Linked DNA regions of Homo sapiens. The protein of the gene in region 1 purifies or fractionates together with the protein of each later gene. This does not show direct contact. Each region holds a gene or a part of one and is shown in the gene's direction. Other genes may lie near its edges.

The links.
Region 2: the proteins of SF3B6 (region 1) and SF3A3 purify together in Homo sapiens (affinity purification with mass spectrometry; 3 studies listed by BioGRID and IntAct, with this or other methods). This does not show direct contact.
Region 3: the proteins of SF3B6 (region 1) and CCDC97 purify together in Homo sapiens (affinity purification with mass spectrometry; 4 studies listed by BioGRID and IntAct, with this or other methods). This does not show direct contact.

What each region holds. Positions count from the first base shown.
Region 1 is NC_000002.12:24,070,160-24,073,435, reverse strand, and holds part of SF3B6 (splicing factor 3B subunit 6), read left to right. Parts: intron 1-3,276.
Region 2 is NC_000001.11:37,979,884-37,983,539, reverse strand, and holds part of SF3A3 (splicing factor 3A subunit 3), read left to right. Parts: intron 1-1,728; coding exon 1,729-1,811; intron 1,812-2,815; coding exon 2,816-2,954; intron 2,955-3,656. UniProt on the Homo sapiens protein: Component of the 17S U2 SnRNP complex of the spliceosome, a large ribonucleoprotein complex that removes introns from transcribed pre-mRNAs.
Region 3 is NC_000019.10:41,322,773-41,325,529, forward strand, and holds the end of CCDC97 (coiled-coil domain-containing protein 97), read left to right. Parts: 3' UTR 1-2,101; downstream 2,102-2,757. UniProt on the Homo sapiens protein: May play a role pre-mRNA splicing through the association with the splicing factor SF3B complex which is involved in branch-site recognition.

The sequences.
Region 1 (3,276 bases):
TAGCCCTGAGAGTAAAGTACCTTTCTATCTTACAGTGCTTAGTGGTAAAATCTTCTGACTCTAAATTGAACCTCTACATTACACAGTACCATAGCCTCTGACACCCGAACTCATATGAAAGGGCTAGTGACTTAAGAGTCCATCTGAAAGGATTTCTAAAGTTTTTATTTTAAAAAAATTATTATTTTACCACAGTAATGACTACGTATAAAGTTTTTATTTCTAGTCGGAATTCCGTCTTGTATGACTTGAGAGCTCCTTCCTGGCTTTAGGACTATGAGGTCTTGAGGACCCTCCTTTTGAATGACACTGTCCCTCCAGAGAGTAAACCAAGAGCTGGAAATACATGATCATTGGTACTCAGATGGGGATGAAAGTGAAAGTGTTATAGACCAGCTGTCCTTTTTAGGAGGTCTCAGTCCTTTGAGCATCTGATAAAAGCTTTAGACTCCTTCCACAGAAGAATACACTCATGTTGCATATATTTCAGGGGATACATGGACTCTAGGTCAAGAAACCCTGCTCTAGATACAGAATGGTATACAAGGCCAGGAGTTCAAGACCTGCCTGGCCAACATGGCGAATCCCTGCCTTGGGGATCAGGAGACAAGATTCTACTTCAGGCCTTGTTACTAGCCATGTGTGTGACTAGTTGCCTAGCTTTTTTGGTTTTCTCTTCATGTATGAGATAATCTGGGTGGTGGCCTTTTAGCTTTTAATGTGGAAACAGCATAGATTGGTTGTAAGGCCTGGGTTCAAATACTGGCTTGCCTACTCTTACGAAACTGGAGAAAATATTTAACCTTATCTGGGTTTCAATTATCTATGAAATACAGTCTTCCTAACCTACTGTCTTAAAAGAATTTTAATTTGGATGAAATTACACAGTGTCTGTGAAGGTACTTTATCAGTTTTCCTTCCCAGTGTACATTAGCCACTCTTCTGCTCCCATAGCATTTCCATGTGTCTCTCCTAGGTTAACACATGGTTTTGCTGTTGTCTCTATATTCATCTGTCACCCTGGGCAGGTTGTGAGTTCCTCCAGGGCTCGTACCATATATTATTTTTGTTTTTGTGTTGATAGCACTTGTGCGATACATGGTAAGCACCCGATGTATACTAAATGAATAATATAGAAAATAGTAGAATAGGCCAGATGTGGTGGCTCACACCTGTAATCCCGGCACTTTGGGAGGCCGAGACAGGCAGATCACCAGAGGTTAGGAGTTCGAGACCACCCTGGCCAAATGGTGAAACCCCCTCTCTAAAAAAAAATACAAAAATTAGCTGGGCATGGTGGCACGCGCCTGTAATGCAATTACTCAGGAGGCTCAAGTGGGAGAATCGCTTGAACCTGGGAGGCTGAGGCTGCAGTGAGTGAGCCGAGATCATGCCACTGCACTCCAGTCTGGGCGACAGAGTGAGATCCTGTTTCAACAAAAGAAAAGAAAATAGAAGAATAATATAAAAAGTGGTTGTGATTGGTTTACTAGGGCATTATAAAATTTATTGATAGTACTCAATTAAGGGATGCTTAAAATCAGTGAAGTTAGAGAATGTTTCAGAAAGCCAAAATGAAAGGACAGGGAATAAAGCAGGGGCATCTTCAGAAGAGTGCAGAGCAGCTCAGAACCTTTGTGCTTCTATTTTCCTTGTATCTGGAATGGTTTTCACCAGCTCATCTCATGCCTGGCTCCTCCTCATTCTTCAGGTCTCAGCTTCAGTGTCACCTTTTCAGAGGGGTTTTCCCTGACCACCCTAGCTGAAGTAGCTCCCTGTTTCCCTATCTGTTACAGCTTTCTACTTCTTGTATGAAACATTTCTTTTTTTAAGATGGAGTTTCGCTCTTGTTGCCCAGGCTGGAGTGCAATGGCACGATCTCGGCTCACTGCAAACTCCGCCTCCCAGGTTCAAGTGGTTCTCCAGCCTCAGCCTCCTGAGTTGCTGAGATTACAGGCACCCACCAGCATGCCTGGCTAATTTTTGTATTTTTAGTAGAGATGGGGTTTCACCACGTTGGCCAGGCTGGTCTTGAACTCCTGACCTCAGGTGATCCTCCCACCTCGGCTTCCCAAAGTGCTGGGATTACAAGCATGAGCCACCGTGCCAAGCCGAAACATTTCTTAAGATTTATAATTATTTCAGGGCTGGGCGCAGTGGCTCACGCCTGTAATGCCAGCACTTTGGAAGGCTGAAGTGGGCAGATCACAAGGTCAGGAGTTTGAGAACAGCCTGACCAACATGGTGAAACCTCGTCTCTACTAAAAATACAAAACTTAGCCAGGCGTGGTGGTGCATGCCTATAATCCCAGCTACTCAGGAGGCTGAGGCAGGAGAGCCGCTTGAACCCGGGAGGTGGAGGTTGCAGTGAGCCAAGATCATGCCACTGTACTCCAGCCTGGGCGACAGAGTGCGACTCCGTCTCAAAAAGAAAAAAAAAAGATTTATAATGATTTCATATTTATTTAATGTCTTTCTACTGCCTGAATATAAGCTTGAAGGAAGGGATGATGCTTATCTTTTTCACTATTGTATTTCTAGTGCCTGTCGCAGAAAGAACATAGTCTATGTGTTGAATAGGTTAATAGAAGTTTAGGGTACAGGAGCTTAGGTCTAAATTATAGATTGAGAAACAGCTGTTTTTCTGTTCCATTACTGTGATCATGCTTTATTGTATACCTGGCACCTGGCACTAGGGTGACCAACCTTCCCAGTTTGCCCAGTACTGAGAGATTTTCTGGGACACTGGACTTTCAGTGCTAAAACCTGGACAGTCCCAGTCAAATCAGGATGATTTGGTTTGACCCTACCTGGCATGTAGCAGGCACTTGGTACTTTGTACTTTTTAAAACTCTTTGATACTTGTTACCTCTTTTGATTATTAAACCCACGTGGAAGGTAGGGCACGTGATAGAGCCTGATGGCACTGGATACATGAAGCATCCGAAGCTCACAGAGGCTAAGTTACACGCTTAGGTGTTCTTATTCCTACTCTAAGATTTTAATGCCAGTCAAGAAAATTGTAGCACTTTGGGAGGCTGAGGTGGGTGGATCACTTGAGGCCAGGAGTTCGAGACCTGCCTGGCCAACATGGCAAAACCCCATCTCTACTAAAAATACAAAAATTAGTCGGGCATGGTGGCGCACACCTGCACAAGAATTGGTTGACTCTGTCTCAAAAAAATAAGAAAATAATGTTAGCTCAGTGTCCAATACGTGGTAGGTACAGATACATGCTTTTAAAAGTTCAAATTATAATATGGCTCTCAAGGTGTG
Region 2 (3,656 bases), on another chromosome or scaffold:
TCTTGGCTCACTGTAGCCTAGACCTCTTGGACTCAAGTGATGGATCCCGCCTCAGCCCCACCAAGTACTTGGGACTACAGGCGTGTGCCACCATGCCCAGCTAATTTTTTGTATTTTGTGTAGAGATGGGGTTTTGCCATGTTGCCAAGGCTGGTCTTAAACTCCTGAGCTCAAGCAATCCGTCTGTCTTGGCCTCACAAAGTGTTGGGATTATAGACGGAAGCCACTGCATCCAGCCTTACATAAGATTTCTTTAAATTCTTTTTTTTTTTTTTTTTTTTTTAAATAAATACCATGTTCCTGGCTGGACACAGTTGCTCACGCCTGTAATCCTAGCACTTTGGGAGGCCAAGGTGGGCAGATCACCTGGGGTCAGGAGTTCAAGACCAGCCTGACCAACATGGAGAAACCCCGTCTCTACTAAAAATACAAAATTAGCTGGGCATGGTGGCGCATGCCTGTAATCCTAGCTACTCAGGAGGCTGAGGCAGGAGAATCGCTTGAACCCAGGAGGCGGAGGTCGCGGTAAGCCGAGATTGTGTCATTCATTGCACTCCAGCCTGGGCAACAAGAGCAAAACTCAAACTCAAAAAAAAAAATTTTTTTTTGTAGAAATAGGGTTTCACTGTATTGTCCAGGCTAGTCTTGGACTCCTGGACTCAATCAATCCTCCTGCCTCAGCTTCTCAAAGCCTTGGGATTACAGGCATGAGCCACTGTGCCCACCCAGATTTATGTGTTCTTCTAGGTGTTCCTGTTTTAGACACAAACAATACTAGGTACATGGAAAATAAAACAACATGATCTTTCAGTCAGCAAAAAGGTATTTAATGTCTTTTCTTAAAGATGTTTAAAAATAGCTTATCACAGGCCGGGCGCGGTGGCTCACGCCTGTAACCCCAGCACTTTGGGAGGCCAAGGCAGGTGGATCACCTGAGGTCAGGTGTTCAAGACCTGCCTGACCAACATGCAGAAACCCTGTCTCTACTAAAAATAGAAAAAATTAGCCGGGCATGGTGGCTCATGCCTGTAATCCCAATTACTCAGGAGGCTGAGGCAGGAGAATCGCTTGAACCCATGAGGTGGAGGTTGTGGTGAGCCGAGATCATGCCATTGCACTCCAGCCTGGGCAACAAGAGCCAAACTCCGTCTCAAAAAAAAAAAAAATAGCTTATCACAAGAGATGAGGTTTAATATGACAATCTCAAAAGGATCACAAGGAAATCCATGATTAGATTCCTCATGGAATTGTGAAGAAATGTCCCAGAGTTGTAGTGACCAAACTTCAAGTTCCATGCAGGCAAGTCAGATCCCTTGTCTGTTTTGTTGTTTTCTGTACCCCGTACTTGGTACAAAGATGCTTAATAAGTAGTTACTTGCGTGAACAAATGGCACCTTTGAGCACCTTGTTTTAGGGTGTCAGAGTCTTTAACCAAGACCCTAGCATGAGGTAATAATCGACAAACGTTTCTTTTAGTTTAATGTTCATTAACTTGATCTTTATTTTGTAAAGTTATTATGTCTGATATTTTCCTTCAGTCCAGTGAAATTAACACTCCAGTTGTAGTAGGATTGAATGATAGGCAAGCAAAAAAAACCAAAATTAGCCAGCCCTTGTTACTTCTTTAGAAAACACTCAATTTTGATCTCACTTATTGGAGATTATATTGTAACTTGTTACAGTATAAATACCTAACTGAATTTCTTGTCATTTCTTTCCTCTTTTCAGAAGCTGGATTATATCACATACCTGTCCATCTTTGACCAATTATTTGACATTCCTAAAGAAAGGAAGAATGCAGAGTATAAGAGGTAGGCATTAATAGTTTCTAGGCCTCTCCTGGATTTGATTAGAAGATAATGTGAAGTTTTTGAGGGTGAAGTTCTGAATTTGTTGCCTGGAAGGCATACATGAAGGCATACTTCCAGGTTTATTGGAGGATGGGGTTATGAATGATGTGGTTTTAAAACCTTTGCGATAGTCTGGACGTGGACAAAGGTGTGTCTGTGGGCACATCTTCCATCTTATGCCCATAGTGTTCTTAATTTTGTCTCATTATAGAAGGAACTCTCCCACTCTGGGATTTCTGTGTTTTTGGAGTTTAATGGGAAAAAAAATTAGACTTTCTCAGATAGTGACTGAAGTGAGATGCTTAGGTGTGATGTATAAGTGAAAAATTTATGTTTTTGTTAATTACTCTCCTGATTAGTGATTTTATACCCTTCCCCTCTTTTTCTCATTTTCTTTTTACTGAAATCTTTTATGTGCAAAGTAATTAAGACCTTAGTATTTAGCATCATTTTATGAGAATAAAAGGAGGCGGGAAAGGTCAGAATCAAAATGACATGTTGGGAAAAAAGTCCATTGTAAGTTCATTTAAAAATGAGTATTGGCCGGGCGCGGTGGCTCACACCTGTAATCCCAGCACTTTGGGAGGCCGAGGCAGACGGATCACCTGAGGTCAGGAGTTCGCGACCAGCCTGACCAACGTGGAGAAACACCGTCTCTGCTAAAAATACAAAATTAGCCGGGCATGGTGGCGCATGCCTGTAATCCCAGCTATTCGGGAGGCTGAGACAGGAGAATCGCTTTAACCCGGGAGGCGGAGGTTGTGGTGAGCCAAGATCCCGCCATTGCACTCCAGCCTGGGTAAGAGGAGCGAAACTCTGCCTCAAAAAAAAAAAAAAAAAAAAAAAAAGAGTATTAAAAAGATAGCATTACTAGAATTATAAGTACTTTATATTCTGCAGGGAATAACAAGATACCAAAAATAGAAACCCTTTTTGCTTTGTCTGCATTGTGTGTTCCTCTGTAGATACCTAGAGATGCTGCTTGAGTACCTTCAGGATTACACAGATAGAGTGAAGCCTCTCCAAGATCAGAATGAACTTTTTGGGAAGATTCAGGCTGAGTTTGAGAAGAAATGGGAGAATGGGACCTTTCCTGGATGGCCGGTGAGCTTCAGTGGGATGTGAATGGTGGACATGCCAGGGAATTGAAGTAATTATTTTCCTTTATCTTGAGCTTCCACTTTAGGGCATTAGGTATCAATTCCTTGGTATCACTTGTGACAATGAGGTATTCCCTGCCAAGTATGCTATGTTTTTTTTTTTTGGAGACGGAGTTTCGCTTTTGTTGCCCAGGCTGGAGTACAATGGCGGGATCTCGGCTCACCTCAACCTCCGCTTCCCGGGTTCAAGCAGTTCTCCTGCCTCAGCCTCCCGAGTAACTGGGATTACAGGCACGCGCCTCCACACCCGGCTAATTTTGTGTTTTTAGTGGGGACAGGGTTTCTCCATATTTGTCAGGCTGGTCTCAAATTCCCGACCTCAGGTGATCCGCCCACCTCGGCCTCCCAAAGTGCTGGGATTACAGGTGTGAGCCACCGCACCTGGCCGTATGTGAGTTTTTTTGAGTGTACTTTGGAGCAAGACTGCCAGGGTCCACTTGCCTTTGACTGTGCCCAGATTTTCACCAATCACATCATTACTGCTATGTGGTTCCTGCCAACCAAGAGCTTATCAGATCATATGTTAGGAATCTACATTCTCACTTCTAGGGATAAACATGAGTTTTTCCTGAACTCTCCAGGGAGAGAATGTGGACAAACCTTAGCTTCATCCTAAACCTGGTGGGGTTTTTTTGTTTTTTGTTTT
Region 3 (2,757 bases), on another chromosome or scaffold:
CCAGGCCTGCTCAGTGACCCTTTCTCTAGGGGGACATCAGGGCAGTGCCCCACAACCCACACACACCACCATCTCACTGGGTCTAGTCTCATCTCAGACAACCCCCACCCCCACTGTTTCTGGGGTTCCCTTTCTCATCTCTCCCACCCTGTCTCCTGCCTCTGTCTTTCTTGGTGTCTGTCTGGGCTTCTTTCTGTCTCTTTCTGTCTTTCTGTCTCTCTCCCTACCCCCGCTCCCTCTTTCCAGTGCTCTGGCTGGCTGTCTCTCCCTTTCTCCCCCTCTCTCTCTGCCTTAGGCTCTGTCTCCACCGCAGGGCCCAAGGTGAAAGTCCTCCCCTTGCCGGAGGCCAGCTGGCAGGGCCTTTCGTGGCTGGAAGTGGCCAGTTTGGTTCCGGTGCTGACCCCTAGGCCCCAGCGCAGCTGCCTCCCGTGCTGTCTGTCTCCCCCTCTCTGTTTATGTCTGCGCTGTGTCTCACACTCAGAGCCTCCTTGCTTCTGTTAGGTTCCCATCTCTCCTTCTGCCTCACTCTGGGCCTCTTCTTTCTACTTGTACATTTCCACCTCTCTAGGCCTCTGCTCTCACTGTCCCTCTCTGTCTGTCTCTCAGCCTTTATCTCTGGGTTTTGATCCCCCACTCCAGGCTCTGGGCCCCTTCTTCCCCCTTCCCTCAAACCTGGCTGCTATAGGCAGCAGAACCCTGACCACTGAGTAATACAGCCCCAGGGGAGGGAGGAGACCCCAGGCAGGGAGGATGGGGGCAGCTCTCTTCTCTCCCCAGGACCCAGGCTGTGGATCACGGGGCCTGCCAGCTTGAGTGTAGAGGGAGGGGGGACTCTACCCTTCTCAGCCCCACCAGCCCCCCTCTGCCCAACCACAATTTTCCCTTCCTCCGCCTTCCTCTCCCTCTCCTGTTTACACTCCCCAAATGCGCACAGGCTGTTATCATGGGTCCTGAGTCATCCCACACACAGCCTGCCCCAGCGTCCCTGCCCCCAGCTGGCCGCAGGGCCCGCCCCATGGAGCCCCCTGCCGCCCTGGGCTAATGGGAGCCAGATGGCCGCCTGGTGACTCAGCCACCGGGCCTGTGGGAACCCAGGCGTCCCGCCTTCCCATGCCCCCACACCCGGCTCCTGCTCCCCCAGCAGACACACACAGGAGGGCCTGGCCACTGTTGAGGGGGCACACAGGGCAAGGGTCACCAAGTCGGGGCCTAGGGACTCCTCATGCCTCTGAGATGGAATGGTGGTATCCTGCCGTGGCCAAGCCTGAAGGACCCTCAAAACTGCCTCCTGGAGTCCACGGTTCCTGACCTCCGAGCCTCAGCTATGCCCTCTGGGTCAACCAGAATTAGAGCCAGACAGGGAAAGTGAGAGCTGGATGGAGGCAGACAAGATGCTCAGAGCGACTATTAAAGAACGAAAGCCTCTGCTACGGAGCGCTTCTGTCCTCTGTCAGGCCCGAGCGAAGTGCCTGACACCGGGTTGGATCCTCAGATGGCCCCATGAACTAGTGAAGTGGGTCAAAGGAGGCCTGGAAAGATGTTGCTTCCTCAAGGCCACTCGGCCATCAGAGGCAGAAATGAAACAGGAACCCAGGCCTAGAATCACAAAGGTCCTAGAAACCACTTGGCTGTCTGGCCTCTCAGGTGTCAGGGCCATCCAGAGTGAGACAGCATTGGAGGGACAAGTGTGCATGCAGATGTCCTCAGACGGGAAGGTTTGAGAAGGGTCAGATGGTAGGCGGGCCTAACAAGGGCTCCGTGCTAGCCACTGTCCCGCACACAGACAGGATCAGGTCATCTTGATATGGAGATCAGTCCCCAAATCACTGAATTGTCCCAGCAGTGCTATGCCCTAGGTACTACCAATATCACTCCTCTATTTCCCAGAGGAGGAAGCAGCAGCTAGACTCCAGGACCTTGGGGTCATATCTCTCAGAAAGCCAAGAGTGCAGGATGAGAGCTGTCTGTCTCTTACCTGCCTGTATTTGTGCCCCATTTTTAAAGAGCAGAGGGCCTGGGCCACAGGAAAGGTATCAGCCCTTGGTGATAGGCACATTTTTTACCAGTCTATCATTTGGTCATTAAATTTGTTTACAATATACTTTGCTATACGTAAATTTGTTGTGTAGGTTTTTAAAAAGCGATGAGAGACACAGAAATTGAGTCAGAATTAGGGTTAGTCAGATGGTCAAGACGTGAGCATCTAGCTGACAGACAGAGGTGGAGCCAGTCCCAGGGACAGGGATTAGATGGGGAGACAGGAAGAGAGGTGGAGACAGAGTGGGGTAGGGATGACGGGAGACACACCCCCTGGTCACTGCCTCTGAGACCTGGGGGTGGTGGGCCCCAGGGCGGGTGCCTCCCATCCCCCTCCCAGTTCTCCCGGGGTCGGGGTAGGTGGAAAGGCTGAGTCAGGGAGGGCGGGCCCCGCTGGGAGACAACCCCTAGGTGGGCATCCGGCCCCCACCCCCGTGTCTCCTGTCCGTCCTGGCCCTGGCCTGGCTCGCTGGCCTGGCCGCCACCCCGCCCCCCACGTCTGACACCTCCATGCGTCCTGCCAAAGCAAGCTGCCTCCCTGCACTCTTCCCCCTCCAGCTCCAGTCACTCTGTCCCTCTGTCCCCCGTCCCTTCTCCCTGCTTCTGTGCGTTTCTTTCCAGCCCTCTGCCTTCCTCCCTCACCGCCACTGCTCTGTCTTCTCGTTCTGTCTCCACACCTCTGGCTGTCGGTGTCTCCCCGTGACTTTCCGTCTCCCCTCT